Homo sapiens: one gene and its partners. The protein of the gene in region 1 purifies or fractionates together with the protein of each later gene. This does not show direct contact. Each region holds a gene or a part of one and is shown in the gene's direction. Other genes may lie near its edges.

Evidence for each region.
Region 2: the proteins of TBC1D22A (region 1) and FLYWCH2 purify together in Homo sapiens (affinity purification with mass spectrometry; 3 studies listed by BioGRID and IntAct, with this or other methods). This does not show direct contact.
Region 3: the proteins of TBC1D22A (region 1) and SUPT6H purify together in Homo sapiens (affinity purification with mass spectrometry; 3 studies listed by BioGRID and IntAct, with this or other methods). This does not show direct contact.
Region 4: the proteins of TBC1D22A (region 1) and CREB3L2 purify together in Homo sapiens (co-immunoprecipitation; one large-scale study listed by IntAct). This does not show direct contact.
Region 5: the proteins of TBC1D22A (region 1) and KIRREL1 purify together in Homo sapiens (affinity purification with mass spectrometry; 3 studies listed by BioGRID and IntAct, with this or other methods). This does not show direct contact.
Region 6: the proteins of TBC1D22A (region 1) and EXOG purify together in Homo sapiens (affinity purification with mass spectrometry; 3 studies listed by BioGRID and IntAct, with this or other methods). This does not show direct contact.
Region 7: the proteins of TBC1D22A (region 1) and METTL13 purify together in Homo sapiens (affinity purification with mass spectrometry; 2 studies listed by BioGRID and IntAct, with this or other methods). This does not show direct contact.

What each region holds. Positions count from the first base shown.
Region 1 is NC_000022.11:46,769,150-46,772,649, forward strand, and holds part of TBC1D22A (TBC1 domain family member 22A), read left to right. Parts: intron 1-3,500. UniProt on the Homo sapiens protein: May act as a GTPase-activating protein for Rab family protein(s).
Region 2 is NC_000016.10:2,893,215-2,896,539, forward strand, and holds part of FLYWCH2 (FLYWCH family member 2), read left to right. Parts: intron 1-2,005; 5' UTR 2,006-2,106; intron 2,107-3,137; 5' UTR 3,138-3,235; coding exon 3,236-3,325.
Region 3 is NC_000017.11:28,668,705-28,672,204, forward strand, and holds part of SUPT6H (transcription elongation factor SPT6), read left to right. Parts: exon of another isoform or gene 1-2,527; intron 2,528-3,500.
Region 4 is NC_000007.14:137,992,087-137,995,586, reverse strand, and holds part of CREB3L2 (cyclic AMP-responsive element-binding protein 3-like protein 2), read left to right. Parts: intron 1-3,500. UniProt on the Homo sapiens protein: Transcription factor involved in unfolded protein response (UPR).
Region 5 is NC_000001.11:158,084,145-158,087,644, forward strand, and holds part of KIRREL1 (kin of IRRE-like protein 1 isoform 1 precursor), read left to right. Parts: intron 1-277; coding exon 278-435; intron 436-2,451; coding exon 2,452-2,602; intron 2,603-3,500. UniProt on the Homo sapiens protein: Required for proper function of the glomerular filtration barrier. It is involved in the maintenance of a stable podocyte architecture with interdigitating foot processes connected by specialized cell-cell junctions, known as the slit diaphragm.
Region 6 is NC_000003.12:38,506,340-38,509,839, forward strand, and holds part of EXOG (nuclease EXOG, mitochondrial isoform 1 precursor), read left to right. Parts: intron 1-514; coding exon 515-629; intron 630-3,500. UniProt on the Homo sapiens protein: Endo/exonuclease with nicking activity towards supercoiled DNA, a preference for single-stranded DNA and 5'-3' exonuclease activity.
Region 7 is NC_000001.11:171,788,160-171,791,659, forward strand, and holds part of METTL13 (eEF1A lysine and N-terminal methyltransferase), read left to right. Parts: intron 1-2,292; coding exon 2,293-2,457; intron 2,458-3,500. UniProt on the Homo sapiens protein: Dual methyltransferase that catalyzes methylation of elongation factor 1-alpha (EEF1A1 and EEF1A2) at two different positions, and is therefore involved in the regulation of mRNA translation.

The sequences.
Region 1 (3,500 bases):
GAGCATGGCAAGGATGTGAGTGCTGGGATAAAGCTGGAGCACAAGAGGGTTCTTAGTGATGTGGCTCTGACAGCCTTCAGCTTACATTGCCAGAGCCACGAGATGTCTGTGAGCAAATCAGACGGTCGGCTGAATAGGCCACAGTCCGTCCTCAGCCGAAGGAGAGGCACTGTTGGGGATAATGAATTCATTTGGAAAACGTTTACGAGCTCCTCTCCTGTGCCAGGTGCTGTGGTGCGTGCTGAGCAAGCCATGTGGCTCTTCACGGCTGGACGCCTGCCCTGTGAACACATGCGCACAGACTGCAGTGCTGGGCAGGTGGCAGTCCCGGGACCCTGGCAGAGTAGCAAGGCCCTCACTGGGTGGAATGCTCATGTCCTCCTTACACAGGTCCCGCTTCCGCCGAGACCTGGCTGTACAGCAGGAACCGATCTGGCTGCTGAGGTCAGGGGAGGGTGTATAGGAGTGGGGAGCGCTTGACTGGGGAGGAGGGGCATGGAGGGTGGTGAGCAGGCACTGGAGCTGCTTCCAAGGCCATGGTGAAGATCTGAGCTGTGGTCCTAAGAGCCATGAGAGAGTGTTGAAGGGTTTTAAACAGGGAGGGGTGTGATACTGTGACACTGTTTGTCATCCTTGAAGAGAGGGCGAGAGAGGAAACTGGTGGGCTTCTGAGGAGGCCGAGGCCAGATGCTGTGGGGTTGGAGAGGATCGGGCATGTTCAGGGTACACATGGCACACTCAGGATTCACTGATGGGCGGGGTGCTGGGGGTCGAGGTGATCTCCAGGGTGCTGGCCTGAGGGGATGGGAGTGTGGTAGGCAGAATACTGGCCCCCTAAAGGTGTCCTCATCCTCATCCCTGACCCCTGTGAATATGTTCTGTTACATGGCAGAGGGGAATTAAGGTCGCTAATCAGCTGACCTGAAATGGGGGAATTGTCCTGTTACCTGGTGGGCCCAGTGTAACCTCACGAGCTTTTGGACGTGGTCAGAGACATGGTGTGGGATGGACTCCACCCACAGCGGCTGGCTTTGCAGATGGAGGAGGCAGCCACCAGGAATGTGGCGCGGCTTCTAGAAGCTGCGAAAGGCCTTCTGCAGATGGCTAACAGGAGAGCAAGGCCTTGCTCCTGCATCCGCCAGGAGCTGAATTCTGCCGCCAACCGGAGTGAGCAGGAAAGGGGTTCTCCCTTCGAGCCTCCCGGAAGGGGCACAGCTGGCTGACGCCTGGACTTCAGTGTGATGAGACCCATGCCGGATTTCTGACCTTCAGAACTTCGAGATAGTGAATGCATGTTTTAAGCTGTGGTAATTTGTTACAGCAGCTGTGAAGAGTTGGGGACTGTGCCGAGGGATGTCTGACAGGGAATGGCAGGTGGCCCAGCACCTCCCTCAGCAGAGTCCTGCACTTGGATGTGGGCAGGAGTACCTTGGTCAGCGGCCTTGGGGGTGGTCACTGGGTAACCTCCACAAAGTGTGTTTAAACCCAGGGGACTGAAGTCAGCTCGGAGGGTTCTTCCTATGTCCTATGTCCTGCTCAGGCCTAGGAACCAAATAGAGCCCTGCCTCTTTCCTCAGAATGTTGGCTGCTGCTTCTGGCCGCCTTGCTTTCTTGTGTTTTTTATAAATCTGTATTGCCTTTTGCTTATGTTTTGAAGAGATTGTTTATTGGGTAAGAACCCTCAGTCCTGTTTTCCATGCAGAGGGAAGCCCCGGAGTCTTGTTCCGGCAGTGATTGTGTGTTCCCCGCCAGTTGGGTTTCTCTTCTTGTTTGTGAGTGGAGATGACCTTCCTGTGACGGGGGCCGCGGAAGAGCTGGTGGGTGAGATTTTGCTGTAGGTGCAGTTCCTTTTCTTGTTCCTTTCAGCGGTTACTTTCCATGTTATTAAATGTCTTACTTTGTCCAGAAACACTTTGAAAAATAAATTGAATGTGAATCATATTTCCTTTCTCTTACATATTCGTCTGATAGAGTAAATCTGGACTCTGGGTTAATTTTAAATGAAGACAAAAATGATTGATCCCTGACAATTTTGGATTATTTATTTATTTGTTTCTTAAGTAACAAGAGCAGGAGGAAGTACCCCATCGCCTCCAAGTGTTTTTGAGGAACCATGGGATTCCTCATGGAATTGAGGAGAACAAGTCTTCGGAGACCACTTGTCTGTTTTTCTTTCTGTTTTTCTTTTTAATTTTTTATTTCTATAGATTACTGGGGAACAGGTGGTGTTTGGTTACATGAGTAAGTTCTTTAGTGGTGATTTGTGAGATTTGGGTGCACCTGAGCAGTATACACTGAACAGTGTATACTGAACAGTGCACCCGAGCAGTATACACTGAACCCAGTCTTTTATCCCTCACCCGCTTCCCATCCTTTTCCTCTGAGTCCCTGAAGTCTATTGTGTCATTCTTATGACTTTGCATCCTCATGGCTTAGGTCCTACTTACTATTTTTTTTTTTTTTGAGATGGAGTCTTGCTCTGTTGCCCAGGCTGGAGTGGAGTGGCGCGATCTCAGCTCATTGCAACCTCTGCCTCCCGGGTTCAGGTGATTCTCCTGTCTCAGCCTCCCGAGTGGCTGGGATTATAGGCACATGCCACCATGCCCGCCTAATTTTTGTATTTTTAGTAGAGATGGGGTTTCACCATGTTGGCCAGGCTGGTCTTGAACTCCTGACCTCAAGTGATCCACCCGCCTCGGCCTCCCAGAGTGCTGAGATTACAGGCGTGAACCACCATGCCTAGCCGTTAGCTCCCACTTATGAGTGAGAACAGGTGATGTTTGGTTTTCCATTCCTGAGTTACTTTACCCAGAATTGTTGTCTCCAATCTCATCGAGGTCTCTGCGAATGCCAGTAATTCATTCCTTTTTATGGCTAAGTAGTATTCCATCGTATATATACATATACATATATATGTATACACACATATACATATATATGTATACACACATATACATATATATGTATACACACATATACATATATATGTATACACACATATACATATATATGTATACACACATATACATATATATGTATACACACATATACATATATATGTATACACACATATACATATATATGTATACACACATATACATATATATGTATACACACATATACATATATATGTATACACACATATACATATATATGTATACACACATATACATATATATGTATACACACATATACATATATATGTATACACACATATACATATATATGTATACACACATATACATATATATGTATACACACATATACATATATATGTATACACACATATACATATATATGTATACACACATATACATATATAGTATACACACATATACATATATATGTATACACACATATACATATATATGTATACACACATATACATATATATGTATACACACATATACATATATATGTATACACACATATACATATATATGTATACACACATATACATATATACATATATACACAAACACACATGCACCGCACTTTTT
Region 2 (3,325 bases), on another chromosome or scaffold:
TCAACTTAACCTTCAGGCCCTCTCCCTTTCCTGGAGTTTGGAGGAGGGGCTGAAAGTCCCAACCCTCTAACCCTGCCTTGGTCTTTCTGGTGACCAGCCCCATTGAAGCAGCCCAGGGGCTGCCAGCCATCAGTCAGTGCCTAAGCATACAAAAAGACATCATTTTGGAGATTCCAGGAATTTTAGGAATTATGTACTGGGAGAGAGGGTCAAACACCAAATATATATTTCACAATATGAAAGAGCCCAATTTACGTATTTCACGATTCCCTTCTTGTTACAGCTTAACGAGATTTTTTTATTTTCCTGACTTTTCGCTTTGGAGAATTAGTCAATAGTTTAGGTCTGTCTTGTTCGTTTAATATGGGGTTTGAATTTGAGATGGGGCTGACGTCACTTTGGGGCCCTTTTCTTTTCTTCTTTTTTTTTTTTTTTTTTTTTGAAACGGATTCTCGCTCTGTCGCCCAGGCTGGAGTGCAGTGGCACGATCTCGGCTCACTGCAAGCTCCGCCTCCCAGGTTCACGCCATTCTCCTGCCTCAGCCTCCCGAGTAGCTGGGATTACGGGCGCCCGCCACCACGCCGGGCTAATTTTTTGTATTTTTTAGTGGAGACGGGGTTTCAACATGTTAGCCAGGATGGTCTCGATCTCCTGACCTTGTGATCCGCCCGCCTCGGCCTCCCAAAGTGCTGGGATTACAAGCGTGAGCCACCGCGCCCGGCCCCTTTGGGGCCCTTTTGTACAGCTCAGAGTTGGCCTGGCTGCAGGGCTGGGACTATGGAATGGCAAGGAGGTGCCTCAGGTGCCAAATATTAGGTTGGTGAAAATTAATTGCGGTTTTGTCATTGAAAGCAATGGCAAAACCGCAATTACTTTTGCACTAACCTAATATAAGGAGGCGTGCAGTCTGGGGGTCAGAGTGAGTGTGGAGGTCTCGGAGAATGGCTGCTGGCCTGGAGGAGGCTGCTAGGTCTGGGTCCCTGCCAGCCTTGTGGGGACCAACTGCTGTATCTTGCAGGAATTTGCACGCTGGGTATGCAAGAGGCTTCATCTTTTTTGGAGTCTGGGAGCGCTGCAGTGGCAGAACCGACACGGCGGGAGGCGCTAGAGGACCCGGGGTGGACTCGGACGTGGGGTCAGGGAACCTGGCATTTATTCCTGCCCGGACTGCCCACTCATGCTGCGGAGTGTGGGAGGCGTGGGGAGATCGGCCGCCAGAGGGACGTGCGCCGTAGCCAATCAGCGTGTGAAGCAGGGCGCTATGTGGTTGGGGCCTCCCGTAACTCTTTACGGCCCCAGAGTGGCCCCCAGGTCCCCGGCATCCCCACATCGCCCTGTGAGGCAGATGAGCAGAGCCGGAAGGGCCGCACGGGAGGAACAGGGGTTGGCTTGTCCGGAGGCGGACGGATAACGCGACCCCGATCCCTGCGGTACTCTGCAGTCATGTGACTCGCCGCCTGGCGCATTTCTTCAAGTGCCCACCCCCTCGAGAAGGTGCCCCTGGGGTGGGGGCTTCACATCTGCTTTTGTTTAGTGGTCAGAGGACTACAGAGGGAAGCTCTCAGGACAAGGCCCCCAACCCTGTACTCCAGTCCTGCATCCTTAGGCCCCTCTCATGGACAATAGGGTCTTAGAAAAAGCGCCAGGGTGCTGGGCATGGACCCCTCAGGACAGACGCATTGGGAGGGGTCCAAGGAAACCATGAGAACCTCAAGCCCAGGTTGGGGAATCGGCCCGAGGGGAAAGTGGGTGTCTCTGGGCCTTGTCCTGCCTGGGTCCTGGACAGGGGGCTAGGTGGCTGCCCAAGCTGCAGTCTTGTGTCTAGGCTAAAACTGTAAGCTGGGAAAGACCCCATGGTCTGCCCACCACCCAGTTGACCCCCAAAAGACAGAAAGGCCACCCCACACTGGCCTGGAGCCCCAGTCCTGAGGTGCTGCAGCACCAGTGTGGGGTGGCCCGGCACTTGCCCCTACAGGGTTACAACCCATCCTTTCTGCTTCTCCAGGCCAGAAGCCAAGGAGTCCTCAGTGACGGTGGGATCCACAACATCTCCACATCGCTGTCCCCACCCAGCCAGGGCAGCGCCAGCACTAGCTCAGACGCAAGGTTGGTGTGAGAACCAGTGGGTGTGGCCAGGCGCGGTGGCTCACGCTTGTAATCCCAGCACTTTGGGAGGCTGAGGCGGGCAGATCACGAGGTCAGGAGATCGAGACCACGGTGAAACCCCGTCTCTACTAAAAATACAAAAAATTAGCCGGGCGTGGTGGCGGGCGCCTGTAGTCCCAGCTACTCGGAGAGGTTGAGGCAGGAGAATGGCATGAACCCGGGAGGCGGAGCTTGCAGTGAGCCAAGATCGTGCCACTGCACTCCAGCCTGGGCGACAGAGCGAGACTCCGTCTCCAAAACAAACAAACAAAAAGAACCAACGAGCAGAGGAGCATGTGGGCCTTCAGACGGGGATGTGGCTGGATCTGGTTGTCCCACCTGCCAGGGCCAGCTGCAGTGCTATGGTCTGCAAAGTGCTGGCAGGTGCCTGGCCCATGCTCCCTGTGACAACACAAACTGAGCTAATGTCCCCAGAGTGTTTAGCTCTGATGCTTGGTGCCCAGGGACACTGATGTCTGTTAACATGGACAAAGTACACCAGATGCTGTGTGGTCATGGGCTCTGTGTCCACTCCATCTCTGCCACTCTGTGGCCGTGTGGATCACCCTGGCATGTCTCAGTGTCCTCAACTGTGACTGGGTCCATAAGAACAGCCTGCTGTCATAACAGGGGTGGGAGGTGGGACTGGAAACAGTCCTCAGGGTGGAAACCCTTCGTCCGTGCTCAGCATGTGGGAGGCCCATTGGTAGTGGCTGAGTTCTTAGTCCATTAGTCATTCTGATGGCCCCTTGTGGAGGGTGTTTACTGTGCACCTTTTCCAGATGGGGAAAGTGGGGTTGGATGGGGCTGACGTTCCCAAGGCTGCCAGGAGAGGAACTGGCAGAGCAGAAGCCTAGTTCCATCAGGCCCCCTGTCAGTCTTGGCCCCAGCGAGCAGTGAGGCAGCCCCATCTGCCCCACCTCCCTCCCAGATCCACGTCTAGAGCCTCCCAAGGGCTTCCACCACTGACGGGATTTTGCTTCCTTCCTTAGGACGGAACCGCTGGACTCCAGGTTCCTTGCCTGGGAGTAGGAGAAATCCACCTGCTGGGGGCTGAGTGTGGCCTGAGGGACAGGCCCTGGGTCCCGGGATGCCCCTGCCCGAGCCCAGCGAGCAGGAGGGTGAGAGTGTGAAGGCCAGCCAGGAGCCATCCCCCAAGCCAGGCACAGAAGTCATCCCG
Region 3 (3,500 bases), on another chromosome or scaffold:
GTTGAGGCCTTAAAAGATTGAACTTGTGGGTCTGATAGCCTAATTAGAACAAGCTATGTGTGGGGGCTGCCGTACTCAAATCTGTTTTTAATGGCTCAGTTCAGGGCTGAGGGGGAGCAATGTCAAAATTAAAATTAGAGCTCTAGATTTAATTGGCAGAAGTTTAAGACTTTCACTTTTGGCAGTGCTCAAGCTAAATGACCTTAAGGATAGAGATCTTGGGGTCATGGGGGAGCATCACCCTAACCCCTAGGCTTACTATACCGCATCTCTTTAGGGTCTTTACAGTCACTCCTCAACTTTTTGGACTCAGGACCCCTTTATACTCTTAAAACTTATTTAGGACTTCAAAGACATTTTGTTTATGTGAGTTATATCCTTTGATATTTACCAGATTCGAAATTAAAACTCAGTGAGACATTTAAAAATATTTATTGATTTATTTTAAAGTAGTAAACAATAATACTTTTTATGAATAACAGTAGTTTTTTGGGTTTTTTTGTTTGTTTGTTTGTTTTGAGACGGAGTCTCACTGTCGGTGCAGTAGCACCATCTTGGCTCACTGCAACCTCTGCCTTCCAGGTTCAAGCAATTCTCCTGCTTCAGCCTCCTGAATAGCTGGGACTACAGGCGCCTGCCACCATACCCAGCTAATTTTTCATTTTTAGTGGAGGCAGAGTTTCACCATGTTGGCCAGGCTGGTCTCAAACTGCTGACCTCAGGTGATCGGCCTGCCTCGGCCTGGGGTTACAGGCATGAGCCACAGCACTCGGCCGAATAATAATAGTTTTTAAAACAAAACATTTTAGTAAGAATGGACTGGGTGTGGTGGCTCACTCCTGTAATCCCAGAACTTTGGAAGGTCGAGGCAGGTGGATCACTTGAGCTCAGGAGTTCGAAACCAGCCTGGCTAACATGGTGAAACTTTGTCTTAAAAAATAAATGAATAGCCGGGCGTGGTGGCTCACGCCTGTAGTCCCAGCACTTTGGGAGGCCAAGGCAGGTGGATCACTTGAGGTCAGGAGTTCGAGACCAGCCTGGCCAATATGGCCAAACCCCATCTCTACTAAAAAAAACAAAAATTAGCTAGACGTGGTGGCGAGCGCCTGTAGTCCCACCTACTCGGGAGGCTGAGGCAAGAGAATCGCTTGAACCCAGGAGGCGGAGGTTGCAGCGAGCCAGGATCGTGCCATTGCACTTCATCCTGGGTGAGAGAGTAAGACTCTGTCTCAAAATAAGTAAATTAAGTAAGAATGACATTCTTTGTTTTTTAGTACAATGTTTTAATGTCTGCTCTAACAGAATACAGCTGTGTTCTCATATGTTTTTGCATTCAGTCTGTTGTGATAACCACATGTCCTATAACCTCTGGAAAACTCCACTCTATGCTCCTGAGAGAACAGAGGGACTGGCCCCTGGACCACGCCCTGAAAACTATTGATAGATGTGGTACTGTCAACCATGAAGAGTCAGACAGACCTCAGCACTTACAGATGATAGTTTTGTCACCTTGAACAAATGACTACATCTCTCTGAGTCTGTTTCCTCCTCTGTTGAGAGAGAAGTGTGCTGTAACTCATAGGACAGTGTAGGGATTAATAGAATACTTGTTCTCCTTGATAGGGACATAAAATAGTAGGGTATTTGTTAGTGTCTGGCACTTGGTAGGTGTGTAATAAGCATTATTCCTCAGGGTACTTTTTAAAAAATTGCTTAAAATACCCAAGAGAGACCCATATTATTTTGATTGGGTTTTGTGTGTGTGTTGTGAGTTTATTGTCCAGTTCTCTTCCTGTGCCTGTTCTGTGTGTCTATTGTAATATATAAAACGATTTTATGGTCCTTATTTTCATATTTCTATCTCTAGGAGACATTCAACTCCTTGAAAATGAACAATCCGGCCAGGCGCGGTGGCTCACGCCTGTAAATCCCAGCACTTTGGGAGGCCGAGGCGGGCAGATCACCTGAGGTCAGGAGTTCAAGACCAGCCTGACCAACATGGAGAAACCCCCTCTCTACTAAAAATGCAAAATTAGCCAGCATGGTGGTGCATGCCTGTAATCCCAGCTACTCGGGAGGCTGAGGCAGGAGAATCGCTTGAACCCAGGAGGTGGAGGTTGCGGTGAGCCGAGATCACGCCATTGCACTCCAGCCTGGGCAACAAGAGCGAAACTCCATCTCAAAAAAAAAAAAGAAAGAAAATGAACAATTCTCTTCAAATCCCCAGCTCTTAGCAGAGTATATGTACATTGTAGGCATTCAGTTAGGTTTGTGGAAAGAATGGCATCTGAAACCTCAACCGAAAATTGAACATTCCCCCTCCCTCCTATACCTTCAGTTTTGTTTTCTTGAGTTTAGTTAATCTCAAGTTCATTGGTTATAGTATTGATTGAGCTCCGTAAGGGCAATTTTGAGGAGAATTAGAGCCACAGAACTTAAGGCACCTTCAGGTAGCCATTAGCCACCCTTCTCTTCTCTCCCCTCCCACTGCCATCTTTAACTGGGAAGATGGCAGCAATATGAAAACGTAAGTAGTTTATTTAACAGACACTTAACAGTTGCTAATTTGTTAGCAGCTAATTTGTTGCTAATGTGTTGCAGCACACCTGAAGGGATATAGCTTTTCTGGTGCAGAATCACAGAGTGCCTTGTAATGCCTCTTGTATTGCCATTTATGTTTTCATGATTTTTATTAGTCTCTCTATTGGATATGTTCTTTATCTTCCAGAAGCTTGTAGTCTAAGTGAGAGAAAGGTACATGGGATATATCCCATAGACCATTTTACTGGATGGGGTGAGGAGTGATGCTGAGTGTGTCAGCAGCCAGCTTTAGGGTTCCACAATGGAATCTTGTTGTGATGATGTGTGCTGTTTTTTAAGTCCTACTCAAGGCCCATCAAGCTCCATGTTACGGTTCTTGAAGATCCCTACTGTCGTTTCCAGGCTTTGGATGAGTCTGAAAGCAGGGAAGTAGAAGATAAAGTTGGGGTTGGTTGGTACAGAATTACAGAATGCTAAGGAAAATTAGGCTCAGGATTCAAATTCAAACTCAGGTTAACCCATCTTGAAACAATAGGTTCTTTCCCCTATGTCATGTAATATTCTCAACTATCCTGTAAGGTAGGTAGCGCTATTACCATTTTCCAGGTTAAGAAAGTGATATTCAGGCATGTCCAATAATTTGCTTAAGTTTATGTTTAGCCCGTAGGGTATGAAACCAGGATTTGATTTCTACTCTTGAGCCCAGCAGTCTTTCCATTTAACCATGTTGCATTTATTTTGTAGGACATGGAAGCCTTTCAAGATTTTTTGCCTGCAAGGGGAGTAAATGATAAAACTAGGCCCTTTTTGGACCCAAATGCTCCCAACCAGTACTCACACAAATTGGCTCAAGTTCATGAAGTATTTGTGTGTTTAATCTATTGAAAAGAGATTTTGCTTTTGACTTTGCTAATAAGTATGAATAGTGTATGTAAACATATGAAAGCACCTTTTATAAA
Region 4 (3,500 bases), on another chromosome or scaffold:
CCAAGGCAGGTGGATCACAAGGTCAGGAGTTCAAGAGCAGCCTGGCCGAGATGGTGAAACCCTGTCTCTACTAAAAATACAAAAATTAGCTGGGCGTGGTGGCGGGCGCCTGTAATCCCAGCTACTCGGGAGGCTGAGGCAGGAGAATCCCTTGAACCTGGGGGGTGGAGGTTGCAGTGAGCCAAGATCATGCCACTGCACTCCAGCCTTGGTGACAGAGTGAGATTCTGTCTCAAAAAAAAAAAAAAAAAAAGAAAGAAAAGAAAAAAAAAGAAATAGAGCTCCTTGTTGGCTGATTCAGCAGTTCCTCAATGGACCTTGGTTCTGCCCATGTGCAGCTTTCATCCTCAGGTTGGATGTGTGATGGACATAGGAGTTACAGGGGTTACATTCAAAATGACAACATCCAGAGGAAGAAGAGAAGTTGTCTCTTTCTTGTGTCCCTTTTTTAGAATGGAAGAAACTTTTCTTACTAGCCCACTAGCTGATTTTTCTTAAAGCTTTATTGGTAAGGATTCGGTCATATGACCATTCTTAAGCCAATGGCTGGAAAGGAGAATGGGATTTATATTATCAGCTTAGATTAATCATATGGGGATGGAGACTCAACCAGCATGACCATTGGGATCATTAGTAAAATAGTCTGAGTTAACAATTCTTTCCTTAGTCAAAAGGTATGTTTCTTTTCTCATGAACATGGGCTAGCAACTAGAAAATTTAAAATTCACAGTAATTTGCCCTGGGCGCAAAACAGTAAACCCAAGTACTGTGCCACTCGCAGAGTTCTTTTGTTTTTTGTTTTTAAATAGAGACAGGGTCTCCTTATGTTGCCTAGGCTGGTCTTGAACCCCTGGGCTCAAGGGATCCTCTGCCTCGGCCTCCCACAGTGCTAGGATTACAGGCATGAGCTATCACGTCCGGCCCAGCAAAGTTCTAAGAATATTATTTAGCTGTGCTACCAATGCCCAGTGAAAGAAGACTATAGATGTAGAAATAGCCTCTTGAAAGTGCAGGGAAAGGCTAGGGAGGGGTGGGAGCCAGGAGGAGATTATGGCTATGTCTTGACTCACTAACTAGGAGATGTAGAATTAACTGTATTATCTGGACTCTTGGCGTCAGAGTAGAATACCAGGGCTGGAGGTAGCTAGCTGAGCCTGTAATCATGCTTACCATGCAGGACAAGAATGATTTGTTCTGTTTGGGATCGACAGCAGGTGGCAAGCTAAATGCCATTTTTCAAAGAAGCAATTTTTCCAGTTGCATATGGCTGTTCAAATATTGATGAGGGCACATGTGCCTGTCTGCAGCTAAAACTGCCGGCCTCAGCCTGACATGGCTCTACGCTGTCTGGTGACTCTCTTGGGGTAAATAGCCTTAAGCCTTAGCTGGGCATTTGGTAGGATTGAGGCCTATGGTTGCAGGGCATCTGAATTGTCCAAATGAGTGATCTTATGAGTGAGGGAGTGCTGCCCTTGTTTTCTGCCCCTGTGGAATCAGGATGGAAAGGAAATAATGAGACCCACTGTCTCTGGATCAACCTTGAGCCTATTTCTCTTTTTCCCTGCTCAGTGGATGCACCCTGGCCTTTCTAAATGAAGTGCTAAGGGATCTTGATTTTTCCTTGAATCAAATTGTATAGGTTATTCATGAGGCACATGGGAGAAGATGGGCCATTTTATCTATGGGGAATGTAAGACATAGAGCAGTAGAGATTTGCTCAGCACAAGTTCCTTGAGGACAGGAGACATGACTGTCTCTTCTATACCCTCATGGTCCTTAGTCAAGTGCAGGATGCCCAGAGAATCGTAAGTGCTTGATGCATAGTTAAGTAGAGTGAGGCAGTCCTGGAAAATGGATAAGCTGGGTGGCTTTGGCCTGTTTTTATATATTTTTAAAACTCTGGGCAAGACGTGGTAGCCCATGCTTGTAATCCCAGCGCTTTCAGAGGCTGAGGCAGGAGGATCGCTTGAGCCCAGGAGGTTGAGTTTACAGTGAGCTGTGATCACGCCTCTATACTCCGGACTGGGCAACAGAGTGAGACCCTGTCTCAAAATAAATAAATAAATGAGCAAACAAACAAATAAACTCTGGATTCTTGTAAACGGTTTTGCAAATGTGAAAATTCAGTATAATAGTGACTTGGGTAATTCAGTGTTGATATCTTTTCTTGTTTTGATTAGAGAACAAGGTGGGCGTGGGGTGATTGAAACAGTCCCTGTTTCCAGTGGGAGTGGAGTTGATGGCATGGTGGAAAGGGTGGGCTTTCAAGGCAGGCCATTTTGATGTTGAGGGACACAGGCTCTCTGGTGACCTTGGGTACATTACTTCACCTATTTGGATTTCAGTTTCTTTGCATGTCACTGCCTGATCCATAATAGAAGTACTTTTCCAACCTATCCCCTAAGTCAAATGTCTTCTCTTTGAGAACAAGGTGTCCCAACCTTAGGAGTCTGACATCATTCAGAAAGTGGAGAGAGCCTGTCATTATTCTCTCTCATGCATCTTTATTTCCTCTCCTCTCCAGCTCCTACATTGTGCTGTAAACACAGGCCTCTGCCTTGAACACATGTTTGCCAGATGCTCCCTCTTACTCATTTCTTTTCTCTTGTTTACTGCCAGGTTTTCTCAAGTGCGTGGTCACCAGCCATGGCCTCCATTTCCTTAGTCTCTACCCTGTATCCTCTGCCCGCTGGGTCCTACTGCTCAACCTCTCCCTGGCTGCTAAATCCAATAGTCTTTTCTCTGTCCTTACCTGCAGGGCCTCATGGGACTATTTGGCAATACTGACCACAGGATTGTCTCATAACTCGTTTTTGCTTTGGCTTCCATGACACTCTGGCAAGCTTAGTTCTTCCTCCTTTTCTGGCTTCCATACCAGCTGTTAAATGTGAGTGTTTTGGTACTTGGCCTTCTCTTCTCTCTGTATGTTCCCCTGGGCTCTGCTATAAACTTCAGTGCATCTGGTTCTCAGTTTTTTATACTTGTTATTTGTCTTTTGACGAAAAGCAGATCTTTGGAGTTTGACTCAAGCCTGCTAGGTCCACCTGAGCAGCAGAACAGCTCTGGCTGGGTAACCCTTGAATTTTCATGTGTTTCTTGATGTGTTTCAAAGAAGAGCTGGGATGTTGATCCTTCTTATCGCTGCACCCATTTATCTCAGGGCATGTTGAGTGACTCAGCTCTCTTGCAGTGTAAACCCAAGAGGAGCTCATGGGTCATTCCTGGGATTCAGCTGCTTCTACAGTCCGTGTCACTCATTAGAGGCAAGCTGTGTTTTGCCTAGACTTTTGCTTGTACTTTGGCTTGGGAAACCCTCTGTGGCATCCTGTGGGGGTAGGTCTAATCTTTTCGACTGTGTGGAAGGTCAATTCAAAAGTGAGACGTAACTTCTTAGATCACGTACCATATTTTCCTCTTGTGTGTACAGCTGCTCTGGGGCTCAGCTACAGTTACCTCATGTTGAATTGCCTGCTTTTGAGTTGCTGTATTCTGGTGTAGGT
Region 5 (3,500 bases), on another chromosome or scaffold:
AACAAACAATAAACCAGTAGGGGCATGGAGTACCAGAAAATATTATAGGCCAGGAAAGAAAAGCAGACAAGGACTGGGAAAGATGTGTGAGCTGAGGACCTAGAGGAAGCCACCACAAGAGCAATGAAGACAGTGGTTGTAGATTAGGGGGTAGGGTGGTACCGCCTACCTAGAGGCGCACATGCAGGTGGAAGGATGCTTCCAGAGGCAGGAGTTTTGGTCTTCAGGGAAGTGTTAGCCACACCCTGCACTGACTTTGCTCTGCTTTCTCCCACAGTCCCCCCAGAGGACACCAGGATTGACGGAGGCCCTGTGATTCTACTGCAGGCAGGCACCCCCCACAACCTCACATGCCGGGCCTTCAATGCGAAGCCTGCTGCCACCATCATCTGGTTCCGGGACGGGACGCAGCAGGAGGGCGCTGTGGCCAGCACGGTGAGCTCCAGCCAGCTCCCCCAGCTCCTCCTGGGCCTAGCCCAGCTCACCTCTCCTTTCCCACAGGGGTTTCACCACAGACTCAGGAGCACACAGACATGAGAGGGGTCTTAGAGGTCATCTGGTTCAACCCTCTCATTCTACAGTTGGGAAAATTGAAACCCAGAGAAGAGAAATGAATTCCTAGGTTTACTGTGTCATTCAGTAGCTGAACAGAGACTAATAGTAATAATAAGTTGCCATGGATTAAGCACCTACTGTGTGCCAGACACCGTGCATGCTAAACACTTTATGGACAGTCTCTCTTAATCTTCATAGGAGTCCCATAAAGGAGGCATTATTTCCAACTCACAAAGGAGGAAACTTGCGCTCAGAGAGGTTGAGTGACTTGTCCAAGGTCACACAGCTGGCACAGAGCGGGGGTTTGTACCTGGGTCTGACTGTGCTTTCTCTCCACTGATCACTTCTACCTCTTTCCTTCAGCGTCTGGTTGTCAGATTATTCCAGTCATCACAACAAAGAGGCTGGGGAAGCAGAGATCCTTGTATACATTTTATAGATGAGGAAGCCATGAAAGATATCAAGTGACTTGCCCAGGATTACATAGCAAAGCGGACAGTACAGCTGGAATTCAAAGCCAGATTTCCTGGTTGGGGTTACCCTGCCAGTTGTGGGTAAACATATGTGTATTCAGCCCTTTGCTGGTGCTGCAGGAGCACTTCTCAGTGTGGAGACAGAGATGTTCCCATGCTCCTCAGCAAGCAATCCCAGGAATACCTGGCTTCTGGCTTCAGTTCTGCCCTTAACACACTGTGTGACCTTGGATAATTCGCTTCACTTTTTTCTGGCCTTAGTTTCTCATTTGACAAATGATAATTCAGCCTCAGTGGTACTTAACCTTTTCACAACCAAAAACTGTGATTTTTCTTCATCAGGGCTACATGTTTTTAGATATTTTGGCAACCAAACAAGTTGGTTTGTTAATATCCATTTGTCATCTACCCCCATTTTTCATATTCATTAAAGACAATGGAGCTTCAAAGCAGCACAAGGGAGCCAGTGTTATTGCACTGGCCCTCAACTGGGCCTGTCCAGCAAAGCTGCATGCATGGTGGTCAAACAACGGGGTCTTACTTTGATTAATAATATGGCTTCCCTCAGGCAGTTTGCAATATAGAAAACAGATCAAGGGTTCCTGTGACCATATTTAGGGACCCCTGGCTGTCACTGAGCAAGTGTAAGACTTCGAGCCTGTGAGTCCCTTCCCTGCCCTCAAGGAGTTTACAGTTTAGCAGAAGAAACCCAACCCTGAAACACGCACACATGGTGCCTACAAGCAAGGTTGGATGTGTCTAGAGCTGTGAGCAGGACACACTGACTATAAGGGCATAAATTCAGTCTGGGAGAGAGTTCTGAGGGCTGGGCTGGCTGAAGAAGGCTTTCCAGAAGAGAAGGGATTTGCGCTGGACTCACAAAGAGTGAACTCTAATATAAACTGTGGCCTTAATAATAATATATTAGTTTCGGTCCATCAGTTGTAACAGACTTATCACTCTAATGCAAGGTGTTAAGGTGTTAGTAATGGGGGAAAGTGTAAGGTCGGGGAGGAGGGTATATGGAAACTCCCTGTACTTTCTGCTCAATTTTTCTGTAAACTTAAAACTGCTCCAAAAGATAGTCTGTGATGTGGGCATGATGGCACACTCCTGTAGTCGCTGCTACTCAGAAGGCTCAGGCAGGAGGATTGCTTGAGTCCAAGCTTTGGAGGCCAGCCTGGGCAACATAGCAAGACCCTAAAAATATATAACTTTTAATTAAAAGATAATTAGTAGTCTATTGATTAAACACACACACACACACACACACACACAAGGGAAGAGGTTGTGGGAGTGAAGGGGATTGAGCTTTAAGTTAAAGTACCCCTCCAGCCCAAGCCCATCTCTGAGTGAGGTCAACTTAAGAGCAGAGGAGGGGGCTTTTAGCTTAACCATATCTCCCACCCTTGTCATGTTCCAGGAATTGCTGAAGGATGGGAAGAGGGAGACCACCGTGAGCCAACTGCTTATTAACCCCACGGACCTGGACATAGGGCGTGTCTTCACTTGCCGAAGCATGAACGAAGCCATCCCTAGTGGCAAGGAGACTTCCATCGAGCTGGATGTGCACCGTGAGTGGGCTGGGGGGAGCAGTCTGGAGCAGGGGGGTGGAAGAAGGGGTGTGTTTGAGAAGCACACTCTTAGTTTGAGAAACACAAACTAAGAGTCCCCCTATGGTCCCCAGGACAAACGCTTGCCTTCTTCACATCTTTCATTCCCTGGATTGAACCATGGGGACTAAGGGCTGGTAGAGCATTGGCTGTGGAGTCAGGCAGTCCCCAGGTCTAAACCAGCCTGTTATTAGTCAATGGTTTACACTCTCTGGGCCTCGGTTTCCAGTTCTGTATACTGTATATTGCAAAAGATAAAATACTGGCCTACAGTCCCTTATTCAAACTAAAAGTGGTTCGATGGTGCAGCCTGAACCAAGGCTCTTCATAGTCTTTTATTTAATTTAGTCTTAAGTTTCACTGCAGATGTATTCATATGTGTGACTATGGGATGTGGCCCAGATGCTGCTGGGGATCTTACACAGTAAACGCTCTATGCACAACCATTGCCTTTCTAAATGTGAAAAATTCTAAATTCTGAAATGCATCTAGTCCTAAGGGTTTCAAATAAGGGATTGTGGACCTGGACCTGCTTCCTGGGGTTGTGAGCATTAAATGAGATATAGCAGAAGAGCATCTAGCATGGAGTATTCTTACCTGGTAGGTGTGTAATAAATTGTCTCTCCCCAGGGAACCATGGGGGTGTGGGCAGCAACTGGGGATGCCCACACCCCATCCTTTTTAGTGAGCCAAGCAAGCTCACACTGACGCCTAGTGGCCACAGTGGGTCATTAGTCCATTGAGTTATTTGTCCCTTTGGTGCCTTCATTGGTGGTCACCCTAGCAGGCCCCCTAGAGGCTCCATGTGCAAAAGGTGAGGAAGACAGTGTGTTAACTGGAGCCGATACACTGCAACCTC
Region 6 (3,500 bases), on another chromosome or scaffold:
TAACCCTATTAAAAATGTTAGTTTTACATATGATGACGAGTCTTTAAAATAAATTCATTCAGTAATTCTGGTCCTTGAAATTTATCCTAAGGAATTGATACAACGTTGCATTATATAAGAAATGTTAACATAAGCCCAATTGTCCTGCAAGAGGAATGGTTAAATAAAGTATATCATCTTGTTGGAATGATACATAATTCTTGAAAGCTGGTTGGGAACTATGGCATAAAAAAAGTTTTAAGTTCATGAAATTTGAATTCCAGAATGTACTCTGAGCGCACATAAAGAAAAATGTAGATAGTTTTGTTAGTGTATGTGATTTTTAAGTTTTTTCTGTGCAGTAAGCAAACTGGGAAAATAATTGTTTATATGCTTATAATGTTTTGTGCCATGTTCTTGTTTAATTTCTCAAATGCAGTTTTTCTTGGTATCTTTCATAGGAATTGATATGATTTGCTGCTGTCTTACATGTATATATGTGAGAATATCATACATTTTTTTATTTGTTTTTCAGAATAGAAATGTACTGTCGAGAGCTGACAGAAAGGTTTGAAGATGTTTGGGTGGTATCTGGGCCTTTGACCTTACCTCAGACTAGAGGCGATGGAAAGAAAATAGTTAGTTACCAGGTAAGGATGTTTAATAGTCAGGTTTATGTTATCTGTATGAGATTATAATCTCACTTTCCATTCTGCTTTTTATTTTTATTTTTATCATTCAAAAAAAATTTTGCATTCTACTTTTTAATTTCACTTATTCAACAATATTTATTGAACACCTATTAGGAATGATAGGCATAGGGAATATAGTGATGGATAAAAGCAACTATTGACTTCAAGGAACTCACGGTTTAGAGTGGAAAACAGATGTTAACAATTAATTACATTAAAGTGTGACATGCTGTAATAGAGGTAAACACACACAGTGTGGTCTTGTGAAAGGACTGATGGGCTCTACTCATATGAGTCAGGAACGCTTAAAAGAGGAAGTGATATTGAGCTATACCTTGACAGATAAGAGTCAGGAGTGGACCCTGAGGATTCCAGAGGATGGAGCAGGATGAGCACAGGACATTTGTGGTCAACATCAGGGTTTTGAGATTTATATATCATTCATAAAAATTGGAGCTTATGGTACAAAACAGTGTGGGTGGCTCAAGGGGTATGAAGAGTTCCATAACAACAGGTGGACGGGTGAGATAATATGCGACTTTCTATTCTATGATGAAGACTTGGGTTTTAATTTTTAGGCACTAAGAAGTCATAGATTTGTTTTAAGCGTGGGAGAAATATGATATTTGGGTTTTATAAAGAGTATTTTGGCAGCAGCGTGTAAAGAGATAGGTGGGAAAAGGGAGCATTTGAAGAAGAGATTAGAGGCAAGGAGATGAGTTAGGACATACAAGCAGTTGGAGTGAGGAATAATAGAGGAACACAGGAAAGAGTAACCATGAATAAATAACTTGTTTGAGTGAGGAAGAGGGAGAAGTTCCAGGATAACAACTAGATTGCAGACCAGGCTCAGTGGCTCATGCCTGTAATCCCAGCACTTTGGGAGGCCGAGGCAGGCGATCACGAGGTCAGGAGTTCGAGACCAGCCTGGCCAATATGGTGAAACCCCGTCTCTGCTAAAAATACAAAAATTATCTGGGTGTGGTGGCGTGTGCCTGTAGTCCCAGCTACTTGGGAGTCTGAGGCAGAAGAATCGCTTGAACCCAGGAGGCGGAGGTTGCACTGAGCCGAGATCGCACCACTGCACTCCAGCCTGGGCGACAGAGCAAGACTCCACCTCGAAAAAAATAAAAATAAAAATAAAATAAAAACAACCAGATTACAGTGTTACAGTGAGTTGAATAAATGGGAAGAAAAGCTTTTCTTCTAGAAGCTTCTTTTTTTTAATATGCAAGATATGTGAGCACTTTTATAGACTGAAAGAGAGATTAAAGATAGGAGAGTGTAATTAGTGGTGTGAGAGCTTCAGACATCTAATGTTGCTGGGAAATTCTTAGCTAGCCTTTCATATTGGCAATTTACAAAGTGGTATACCTGAAGAGCAGGTGTTCTTAGAAAAAGTTTAACATTTAATCTTATCATGCAGAAATATCCTGAGGATTCTTCCAAGAGGGTGGCTGAAATGTTATACTATACTGTGAGGCTTACAGAGGGCAGGGAACAGGTGGAGTGAAGCAGAAGAGGTGGTAGAGTGAGTAAAAAGAAGCACTGAAGGACTTGCTAATAAGGCCAAAGAGGAGGGGAGGGAACACCTAGCTCAGCTCTGGAAATAAAGTAGATATTTAATAAATGCTGGTTAGGTAAATGATTACTTAAGTCTGTGATAAAATTTAATAACCTGAGGAACAGATTGAGGAACCACCCCCCCCCCAAAAAAAAACCAAAACTTTTAGAGTATATTCTGTCCATTTGACTTGCTTATTATCAGCCTGTCTAGATCAGATGTGCAGTAATGTCCAAGCATCCAAGGATTTGTATAGGTCCATATGAATAGCCCACTTTCTCTTTTTCCACACAAAATTATGACCCAACTACTTCTTTTTGTTAAGTGGAAATGATAGAGTAGTTGTTTTCAAGGATTTGTACATCCTTGGAAAATTCCAGTAGATATGGGAGTGAAGGAAGTCAAAGGAATTAGTATTTTAAAATTAATTCATTTAATATCTCTCCTCCCATATTAATTTCTCTCCTCTGATTAACTTGCTAATTTAATTTTAGTATATTTTATAGTCTTAGGAGAAAAAAAGGCTTAAAGCCCCCTGTATTATTTTTCAAATATTAATTATTCTTGGTCTTTGTTAAATCCTGTTTATTTTATGTCAGAAAAGAGGCTCTTCTAGCTTTGACTTGTATATCTTAAATGGTTAAATTACAGTTTTATTTGTGCTTTGTTTTTATAAAATTGAAAAATTTATATCACTAGCCTACTGTGTAGTAGAACAAAAATTTGTACAATGTTTAAAACGAAAAATTAACCAATAATTACAAGCATTTCACTACATAGATTTTTGTGTGGCTATTTCTGTAAAATATGTGTTGCCCAAATGCCGTAGTGGAAAATGTATTGTTTTTCTTAAGTTGGATATAATTTTTAAAAATAGAACTGATAAAAATATATCTTCTAGTTGTTTCTGCTGAAAAGGCCCAGAAGAATTGGTATGTCATTAGCAATGAACACATCTTGAGACCCAGATATTTGTTTCTAAAAAGCATCTCCTGAAAAGACTCAGCGCTTAGAGAAATGACTGATTTAAGGGGTGGTACAGGGAGAGTACAAAATGGAACATCATATATCAGAAAGCCAAGGAAGTGCTCAGACAAATGGTGGGGATATGTCAGAAGGACATGTGAATCAGCTTGAAGGAGCTCCCACTTACTGTATCTGGTGCTATTGAATATCAAAATAAAATGGATTATAAACCTATTGAATTAAATAAGAATACATACTCAATAAATATGTAAATACATAGGGTGTAAAGAAAAGCTTCT
Region 7 (3,500 bases), on another chromosome or scaffold:
TTAATGTCTTCGGTTTAAAGGCATCTGTTTTGCAGGTGCTCCATATACATCTGTGTATTGTTTCAATAGGCCTCTGTGAGGTGAGCCAGAACTATGGAAGTTGCAGGTGAGCCCTGCCCTCCATAGTGTGACTCACCTGTTTCAGAGGGTTTTGGATTGGCGGGTGACTTAGAGGCCTTCTAGTATACCACTGTTCAGTAAAACTGCCTGTGATGAAGGAGATGTTTAGTTCCTGAGTTTCTAATGTGGTCGCGACTAGCCATATGTAGTGCTGAGCGTTTGGAATGTGGCTAGTGTAACTGAGGAACTGAATTTTAATTTTCTTTAATTCTAATTAATTTACATTTATATTTCAACAGCCATAGGGGGCTAGTGGCTAGTATTGGACAGTGTAGATCTAAACCATCTCTTCTAGGATCCCTTTAAGTGGTCTCCCAGCTGTCACTCAGAAACTCCCCCGATGGGGAATCAATAGTTTGTTTTACCTGTGTTAGTTTGTATTTTAAAAGTGATACTTGTTCATTGAAATCACTTCAAAAGTCAAATATAGACCGCGAAAAGTGAATGCCCCTCACCTCTCCGTCTCCAGTGCATCTTCCCTGTCTGAGGCGCAGAGATTCAAGGATGGAAGCTGAAATGGCTCTCCTGATTCCCAGTTGTTCCCTTTGCCTGACTGGCCTGCCCTCATAGCAAGGCCATCTGGGAGGAGGGTGGAGACAGAGAATTCAGATGCTTGAGGTCATAGACTGGCTCTGAGCCTAGAATCAAGTTACCCAGCGAAATGGTATTTTTCTTTAGGGGTTTTCCCTGGCCAAGAGCACCCAAGATTGTTGGGTTTCTGCCCTATTGTTTGGTCACTGTGGCTGCAGGTTGGTCCAGTTTCATCTCACTAAAATCTCAGTAAAATTGCTTAAAAGAACATTTTGCCCCTTTCAGTTTGGGTTTCAGGTTTTTTCACCATTGTCATGTTCCTTGATTTCTTGGTAGCACTTTGTTCTCATGGAAAGAACGTTCTCCCTCATGGGAGTATTGGTGAGCAAGAAGGAGAGCATATTAAAAAGTGATTTAATATATCTGAAAAGCACCCCGACTCCACTCATCAGCACTTTTTACTGCTGGGGAATGCAGCTGATCCCTATGAAGACACAGCCATCCGTTTAGTATGATACCCTGGAGCAGGGAAGGGAGTGGTGAGAGGGAAAGTGGAGTGGCTTTTTAGGATTTATTTCCTTTTTTGAATACTTGTGATTTCCTTCTTCAGCAAAGGTTGGTAGTGCTACCTGTGTGGCATAGCAGAAAGATGATAGGTGATGGAGACAGGCAGTCCGAGGATCAACTCCTATCTCTACCATCTGCTGATTCCCTATTTACTTAACACTTCAGTGGCTTAGTGTGTTCATGTGCCAAGAATTGGAATGATAAGGTTGTTAGAAGAGCTAAAAAAATAAAAGTTACGGTATAGTAATTGGCACATAGCAGGTGATTAGTAACTTTACCTTTCTTTAAAAGACTTTATGAGTAATCTTTTCTCCTGTTAGTGGCCTTACATTTCTTAGACGGGAGGTACCAGGGCTCCTCAGTTGAGTTTTCCCAGGTTTTTGAGTGTGCATTTGCCATTTCCTTTTCCAGCTTCCTTGTATCCATTGTATATGTTAAATGTTTAATGACTATGTCTTTGTGGGGCGGGGTAGGGGGGGCACATCCTAATTTATAGTGTTTATCAGTTCTCTAGTATAAATACCACCACTGTATTTGTTTGTTTTACGTTGCTTATAAAGGAATACCTGAGACTGGATAATTTGTAAAGAAAAGACTTTTATTTTGGCTTATGGTTCTGCAGACTGTACAAGAAGCATGGTACCAACTTCTGCATTTGGTGAGGCTTCAGGAAGCTTACAATTATCACAGAAGGTGAAGGGAGACCAGGTACATCACATAGCAAGAGAGGGAGCAAAAGAGATGCCAGGCTTTTTTCAACAACAGCTCTAGAGTGAGAACTCACTCAATACCATGGGGAAGGCACCCAGCCATTCATGAGGGATCTGCCCCCGTGACCAGCATGGTGGCTCCGACATTGGGGATCACATTTCAACGTGAGATTTGTAGGGGACAAACATCCAGATGATTTCACTACGGCCAGTTTCAAGCTATCAACATGATGTCAACCAGTTTGCAAAATTTTAACGATTGGGTCTTTTGAGTGTTCAAGCCATCTGGAGCACACTGCTGCCAGTAACCCTTGCTTCCTGAGGACTAGTGTACTAAGCATAGGGCTTCATATCTCTTGTTTAGCCCAGAAGAAGCGGAAAAAGGACAGGAAGAAGCAGCGGCCTGCTGATGCGGAGGACCTCCCTGCAGCCCCGGGGCAGTCCATTGATAAGAGTTACCTGTGTTGTGAACACCACAAAGCCATGATCGCTGGCCTTGCCCTGCTGAGAAACCCAGAGCTACTCCTAGGTGAGAGAGATGCCACTGCCTTCCACAGAAGGGAGCATAAAGATTACAGACCTAAACAATTGGTGTCACTTGCATTGTAGTTGAAGAACAGCAATTACAAGCTGACAATGTATCTTTCTTCATCTCAACCATGTTATAAGTTAATGAGCATTCTAATTAACTGTTGCCTCAAACTCAACCTGTTATATTGAAATTGTATTGAAATATGTTAGAGTCTAAGTGGTATTTTTTCTGTTCATTTCTTTTTAAAATTAAGGTATATCATGTATTCAATGAGATATGTAAAAATACACAGATTTTAATTGTTCAGCTTTTCTGTAATGCATTATTTGAACAAAAGATGCAATTCTATCTTGAATTTCTACTTTCTGAAAAGATTCATATTATAGTTAATGCAGTCATAGCCTTATCGCTAATAGCAGGTTTGGATCTGACTGCATTAGTGAAATTGTTCATGTTTTGTCTGTGATTGTAACCGTTTTCACCTGAAGTCCCTGAATGTGCCTTCTTGGAATACCCTATACTTTTGTCCTATCTTAGTGTTGATGTATGTCACTAGAATCTCAGTTCTTAGATTTAATTCTCAGGGTCTGTCTCCTTCGGGTGACTTTTGTTGTCTTCCTTTGATCCCCCTGTGGTGGCTGTGCTCTGTGCTTAGGAGTAGGAGTTGGGCCTTTGTTTTCCTGTGATTTGTGGAACTTGAATGGCTTACCCTTACTTGGTGAGGGTGTCTGAGAAGACGGTGTGGCCTTTTGAGTCAAGGGCAAGGGACATTGCACCTCTGCTGCCTTGTAATCATGAGCAAGATTGTTTGGCCACTCTTCTTCCCTTTCCTAGAGAGGGTCTAATAATTCTTATAGTGAAGAAGTCTTTTTTTTTGAGACAGGGATTTACTCTTGCCCAGGCTGGAGTGCAGTGGTATGATCGCAGCTTACTGCAGCCTTGACCTCCTTAGGCTCCCACGTCAGCTTACCGTGTAGCTGGTACCACAGGTGTGTGTCACCATGCCCAGTTAATTTTTCTACTTTCTATAGACAGGATTT